Linked DNA regions of Homo sapiens. The protein of the gene in region 1 interacts with the protein of each later gene in a pairwise test. Each region holds a gene or a part of one and is shown on either strand. Other genes may lie near its edges.

The links.
Region 2: the proteins of ROR1 (region 1) and DUSP19 interact in a two-hybrid assay, tested with the Homo sapiens proteins (one study listed by BioGRID and IntAct).

What each region holds. Positions count from the first base shown.
Region 1 is NC_000001.11:63,776,888-63,780,640, forward strand, and holds part of ROR1 (inactive tyrosine-protein kinase transmembrane receptor ROR1 isoform 1 precursor), read left to right. Parts: intron 1-3,753. UniProt on the Homo sapiens protein: Has very low kinase activity in vitro and is unlikely to function as a tyrosine kinase in vivo. Receptor for ligand WNT5A which activate downstream NFkB signaling pathway and may result in the inhibition of WNT3A-mediated signaling.
Region 2 is NC_000002.12:183,088,594-183,092,346, forward strand, and holds part of DUSP19 (dual specificity protein phosphatase 19), read left to right. Parts: intron 1-3,753.

The DNA of each region.
Region 1 (3,753 bases):
CTGGTAGAACTCACGTTTACTTTCTCCTCTTGGACTCAAGATTCCTAAGGTAGCCCAGCCAGTGGCTCAGGAAATCAGCTTAAGCGGAGATATGTTTCATGTATTTATTTAAAAAGATACAAAACATTTCTCCCATCATTTTTCTATTTTGTTAGCCAGGAGAAGAAAACCTTTAAATTTATTTTTTCTGGTCTGTCCATTGTTGATTTCTCATCTACCCCCTCCCTATGCAAAGCTCAACTTCTTTAGGAACCTGAAGCTTACCTTATAACTGCACCCAAGCCCAGGGCTTTAGGAACCTACCTGGCCTTTCTCAAAATCTTATAGATTCTGTGGTTTGGCTGCTGGGAGCCAGAGGGAGGTGGCTTGCTACTGTGTTTGCTATCATTTTGTAAACCTTCCGTTGCCATTTAAATAGGTATTTGTCTGTACTTTTAGAATAGAAGTGTCTTGAAGGCAATAAGACTGTGAGCTTTTCTGGTGAAAACACTGAGAGCCCAAGTCCACTAGTCCCAACTTTATTAGAGATGCCTGAAAATCCTCCCTGGCTGGCTAGGGGGAGCCGAACCAAGGTGGGATGGGCAAAGGGTGTGGTCAAATTGTCTCCTTCAGTTTTGGAAATATTTAATTTCCAATATAGATTCAGTATACATGGTAGGCTGTTTTGCTTCTCTGATGCCTGGGATAATCTGCCTGATATTTAGTGAGGGGTCAGCTTTGCCCTATAGCACCCTTTCTCTTCTGTATCTTGAGCATAGGCCCCCAGTTAGACTTTTGGAAAGTTTCTGAAAGTGTCACTTGCTCTGAAATTAGTATCAGGTTTGGCTGGTGGTTTGATGGTGAACATCTACCCCATTTCAAATATTTCTGAAAATTTTACACAGCATCCTATGGAGAATGGAACACTTTGTAAGCTATATGTACTTTGATGTAAATGTATATGTACAGATAGCATATGTATATACACACATATATAGTAAGTGGTCCATAGATATTTGTTGAATGAATGGAGAATAACTTTTTCGGTTGTATGCAAAATTCTGATATATGCTTTGCTTAGTAAAAATGCAACATGGCATATTTTCAAGGATTTTTCCTTTTCTTGTCCCATCTTCTAGTATGAAAGAAGTGTAGTGTAGCAGAACTTGACAGTAAAGCTAAATGGTTACAAGCACAGGCTTTGGCATTTAACAGACCTGGATTTGAATCTTTTCTCTGTTGTATAGTGGGTGTGTCAGTTTTCCTGAGCCTTTCAAGAGTGTTATGAGATTGAAGTGAGGTCATGCATGTAAAGTACTGGAGAACAGCACCCAGCCAAGAGGTGAGTGCGTGAAATTAATTTGGGGTACATGAAATTAAGGATATGTGAACTTCCAGAAATAATATACACAATTTTATATGCATTTTTACGGTTCTGTATTTATAGCTATAGCTATAATCTTATTTTCCAAGAAAAGTGTCAACCTCTGAACGATAGGAACTGCTGACTTGGAGTGTTTGATGCCTGAGGCAATGGGTTGTCTTCCTGGGGAGGCTGAAAGGAGTTGAGTGTTGGTGGCTAGTTCTAGGCCTTATCCCAGGTTAACACACTCCATGGAGGCCCCACTTCTCACCTCCCAGTTTCCCTTCCACCAGGCAGGCTGTTAATTGGGCCTGAGAGAAGCTGAAGAATGGTGCCAAGTCCTTGTGACCTCAAGTAAGAAAATATGTCTCTGAATCCAAGCATTCTGAGATGCAATTTGTACAGTTTATTTAACAAACACTTATCTAATCCTTACAATGGGCCAATCACTCTTCTAAGCCTTTTGCAAGTATTAACTCACTGAATCCTCACAACAACCCTATAAGGGAGATAGCATAATTAGCTCATTTTACTGATGGGTAAACTTAGGCACAGAGAGGTTAAGTTACTTTCTTTAGGTTACACTGCTAAAAAGTGGCATTACTGGGCTTACAAGCCCTAACAGTTCATGCTCTTACCTTAGTGGCTGTCCTAGACATTCTTTCCTTGTTTAATTCTTACAATTTATATTCTTTTAATGTATGGAACAAAGGTGGTATTTCCCAAGGTTTTCCAACAGCAGCAAAGGGAAGCTTGCTTAGCTGTAATCTAGAGGTTATAAGAAATTATTGGAGACAGCCAATTTCAATTTCCCTTCGAGTGCTGGAGTTCCCTAAGACGGTCTTGCTGAAACTCAGAGATAGACTGGAAGCACCTTGTTGGATGGCCTGGATCTCTGGTTCTGGAAGAATTACATTTTTGTAATGAGCTTCAACTTTGATGTGGTTTGAGAAGTGTGCTCGCCAGTTTTTTCCAACTATCAATAAGCTATATTTTGATGAAGTGACTTTGTATTTGCATCTTGGTGGACAACTGTGGTTGTAGGCTGAGAAGGCGGGGATTTATTAGAGTGCTGTCTAGTGGGACAGCTGGCTTGCCAGCTCAAGGTCCCAGTGAGGACCAGACCCTGGCAAATCCAGCTCCAGCTGAGAAACACTCACGTCTTCAAGGCCTCTTTCTCAAACAGAAGGGCCTTAGCCTGGCTTCACCCATTCCCTGGGGTGTGACGGGAGAGACTGTTCGGTAGAAACTGGAAGAGAAAGGAGAGTCTGAGAAAGTTCTCTGGAGTTGAAGGGGGAGGGGATGGGGGCAACTCTTCGAAAATCCTTAACTAAATGCAGCTGCTTGTTACACGGAGACTGACTTGCATGCCAGGAATATCTAAAAAGCTAACGAATACAAAATAAAAATAAACAGCAGTAAAAAGGCTCTCTCTTTGTTGCAGTAAGCTCAGTTGGGGTTTTCAGTTTGTTTAGGAATGGGATAATTGTGGCATCCACTTTATTTTGGTAAGGCAGTGAAACGTGGATTAATGTTATGTGATTGGGATGCTACCACCATCTGAACTTTTTCCTTCATCCCCTGCCCCCAGCCACACCCCCCAGAACACCCAGGCATGGACATCCATAGGACCTGAGTCTCAAACAGTTGCCCCTGAGTGAATTACATTGGAAGAGGGCAGATAATTTAATGGGATAATCTTGGCAGGGCCAGCAAATTTCACACCTCATCTCTCACTAATAGAAAGGCAGCAGAAGGCTACAACATCCTCAGATGAAAAGGTTGTATAAAAAGGCTCTGCTTAACAGTAACTGTCTGTCCATAAATAAGGTTTTGTACAGTCTTGATCCAAAAGCTGTTATGAAATACTGATAAGCCAAGCCTCATAATGTTTGGCCTCCTTACATTTCCTTTTCCTGCTTCTCTCCATAGAACCATAGATTTTTTTTTTTTTAAGAGAGAGAGGGGGACTAAAAAAAAGATCAACAGTCCAAACTTTATTTTTTTCAAGTATTTCTATACAGGATGGACTTCCTTTGATAGCTGCTTAAAGAGGTGGCGTGGAGTAATGGAAATAGAATGGGATTTGAGCCTGATAGGGAATGGGGGTTTGAATTGGGGCTTTGTTGCCTTCTTGGGCAAAGTTACCTAAACTTTTGAGCCTCTGTTTTCTTATCTGTAAAATGGGAATAACAATAATATGTGGCTTACTGGGGGGTTTTGTGAGAATAAAAGGATGTTATGAACTTATAGCGCCTAACACAGCACCATGGACTTAGTGAACGTGAAGTATGTTAGCCACCATCATTATCAAGGGCTTACTGAAGAAATTTGAAAATCTGGCTTCAAAACGATGGTCCTGCTGCAAGGTAGCAACCAAGGCTCAGAGAATAGCAAGTTTTACAAGGTTT
Region 2 (3,753 bases), on another chromosome or scaffold:
TTGTATTTTAGTAGAGACAGGGTTTCACCGTGTTGCCCAGGCTGGTCTTGAACTCCTGAGCTCAGGCAGACCACCTGCCTCAGCCTCCCAAAGTGCTAGGATTACAGGCATGAGCCACTGCACCTGGCCAAGGGAGAGGTTTTTTAATTCAAAGCCTAATATTGGCCATTCTGTTTTCTTGTTAAAAAATTTACAGGCTCTGGATTGTAACATTCCAGTGTGTGAGTTAATAGTTTTAAAAATAAAAAGGATGTTTCTGTATTGGCTCCTTCTCTAAGGAGATGTAGAATATGCCAGAGATGGCAAAGTATAGATATCATCCATATTCATATTAACATTAGAAGAGATGTAAATGTTGCAAGTAAAAATTAGAGAGGTTAATCATATCTAGAAAGAAAAGCAAGAGATTGAATATTCTAATAAGCTTGGAATTTTAAATAAATTTAAAAAATAAAGTTTGCCTTAATTTGGGCCAGTAAATTAGAGTGGATTTTAGCTTGGGTTTCCTAAAAATAAAGCCTGAGATGAGGATTTAGAGCTTATGCTTAATTTGAGAGGTACAATCTCTAGGCAGTGAGAGTGGCAAGAAAGGAAAGTGATTCAAGGTGGGACGAGAAGCAATACAAAGTGATGCGTTTACCCTGCTGGGCTCATTTCACAGTGAGCTGACTGTTGGCTATTCAGCAGGTACAGCTACTCTACCACCCAAAATACCTCTGGACAGGCAGTACAAAGAAACTGCACCTCAACCCAGCCTGGAAGGGAGGATTTATCTGCCTGGCTTCCTGTCAGCTCCTGTTTCCCATTGGTCAAAGTTTGCCAGTGGGGATATAACCAACCCCACAATTCTAGGTTATAACATTCCACTCTTTCAGCAGCCACCTCGAAGCCAAATCTAACACCCAGTAATACAACTTTTCAACCAAGTTGAGAATTAGAAAATCCAGAACTCAGAGTACGCCTGTCTATACTGTGGACACCATGGAAGAAGAGCTCCTTCTTTGACAGGCAAAAGTGAAAGCAGGGGAGAGCAGTCAGCCATGGAGGTGGTAGCCGAGGTGGAGCATGCTGAGAGGGTCTGTGAGATGGCGGCACCACAGGAATCTGAGGAGCTGCAGAAAATGTTTCTGATAAGATGAATTAGATTTCAGAAATATGTTCTACCCTCTCAAGCCTTGTGTTTTATACTGGAATCCTAACCTCAGCCAATATTTCCCTGCCCTGAAAACTCAGTGCCATGACACAATCTCAGCTCACTGCAACTCCACCTCCTGCACTCAAGTGATTCTCCTGCTTCAGCCTTCCTAGTAGCTGGGATTACAGGTGCGCACCACCATGCCTGGCTAATTTTTGTATTTTTAATAGAGACGGGGTTTTGCCATGTTGGCCAGGATGGTCTCAAATGCCTGACGTCAAGTGATCCACCTGCCTCAGCCTCCCAAAGTGCTGGGATTATAGGCATGAGCCACCATGCCTGGAAGGCTAATATATATTTAGTTTTAGCAATAAAAATTCTTGAATTTTTTTCATTTTTTTTAAGAAAAGATCTCTTCATGCCTTTGTCTATTTTATATTCAAGTATTGTTAAATCTAATTACTCAGTGAATTACATGTTTCAAAACTACCTTTCTAGGCTATAGTTTGTTGTTTTCATCTTTTTGCATACCGTTGCCAAATGGAATGGATTCCATTTCCTAAGTCTTTACTCATTTCCCTCTGTACTTGCAAAACTCTATTTGGCTTCTCTGTCCTTCCTTTATGCCTAAAGGGACAGAAATACACCTGAGAAGAACAGTAATGGTAACTTCTATAGCCCAAAGAGTCCTTTTAGGAACTAAATTTATTTGTCCCCTCTTTTTATGTACAAAAGGTACAAAGTATAACAATGTGTATTTGATATTTCATGTTCATTGTTTATAAGATGTGATTTTAAAAACATGACGTAAGTAGTCCATGTTCTTTGTAGAAAAAATGGAAAATGCAGATGAAAATTAAGACACTTCCACACTTAGATATAAGCATTGTTAGCATTTTGATATATTTTTCTAGACCTATATATGTATTTTTATAAAAATAGTATCATACAGTTTATATTCTTTTATAGCCTGCCTTTTTTTTGGGAGGGCAACTTCATGACTTTATTTGTGGTACCTGTGCTTTATCTTGAAAATACCTTCTCCCCCTGTCCCAGACAGCGGGCTGGGAGGGGGCAGCAAAAAATAGAAGACTTCCCTCCCTATTGCACATGGACCCTATGTACAGGCCCACCCGGCTGAGGCCAGCAGGCCTCTTGGCACATTCTTGGATCCCTGCTCAGGAGGGGAGGGCTGACGGGGTGCTATCACATGTGAGATCGGGAACTCTGGGCGGCCACTTTGGTCCTGGGTACTGATATTTGCACTTCTTGGTCCTCAGTTCCTTCCTGGTCCTGTCTCTGGCCCTAGTCCCCTCTGTATAGCCTGCTTTTTATACTTGATGATTCAAATCATTTAAAATTTTTGCACAGTATTCTGGTAGTTGGTGATTCTATAATTTATCTTATTTCCTGCTATGAGACATGTAAGCTGTTTGTAGTTTTTTGTTCAATAGAAGTAAAAGTTCATTAGAGAGACATTATGGGTCTAAATAAGTACCTAAATTCACGAAGTTTTTAGATGCTTCTGTTACAAGTAGAGGGTCATGACTGCAAGTTGTCCAGGTTCTTGGCATTTTGAACAAATAATTGGACAAAACGCCCATCAAAGCAAAGAAAGAATGAAGCAACAAAAGAGCAAAAGCAGGGATTTATTGAAAGTGAAAGCACACTCCACAGTGTCGGAGCAGGTCCAAGCAGCGGCCCAAGGGACAGGATACAGAATCTTCTTGGGTCCAAATACCCACTAGAAGTTTCCCAATGGCCACTTCATGCTCACCTTATGTAAATGAAGTGGTATCCTGCAGTCAGTCTGATTGGTTGGAGAAAGCAGCCAACCAGAGGCTGAAGTGAAGTTACAAAGGTCACGCTCCTGTGCAAACATCTGATTGGTTGCAAAAAGCAACCAGTGAGAGGCTAGGGTGAAGTTACAAAGTTATACTTCTATGCAAACGAAGACTTGGCCTGCAATTAGTCTGATTGGTTGTGGACAGCAAATTTCCCATCTGCATGCAGAAAAGGTGAGGGGTTTGCAAAGGCAGTAGCCCCCGGTGCTTTTGTTACTTAGGTGTGGAAAGTTAGGGTTTTCCTTTGAATTTAGTTCTGGGAAATCGGAGTAAAACAGCCTTAGGTTCCCTGCCACCAGACCCTATTCTCTTGCTTTACTTCTTCCATTTTGTTTCAAAGCAGTCTACCCATCACTTTTTTGTATTTGTCATATTTACATTCCCCTCTACTACTGTGGATAGTCATGAGTGGACTGTTCTGACCTGTGCTCCTCAAAGTGTTGTCCAGTTTGCTACCAGACCTCTGCAGGATAAGAAGGTTGTGCCTGAATATAAACCAAGACATTGCTTAGTTCTTTGAGAGATTTTGGCTACTCCCCCACCCCACCCAAACGCTGAACTAAGGAGTATATTTTTAGTGACAATTGATTTTCATTCCACTGCAAAATTCTTATTTCATCATAGGTGGCTGTCAAGCACTTGCAGACTATCACATTATACCCAAGGTTTTTTTAAGTTCTGGGGCACATGTACAGGATGTGCAGGTTTGTTACATTGGTAAACGTGTGCCATGGGGATTTGCTGCACTTATCAACCCATGACCTAGGTATTAAG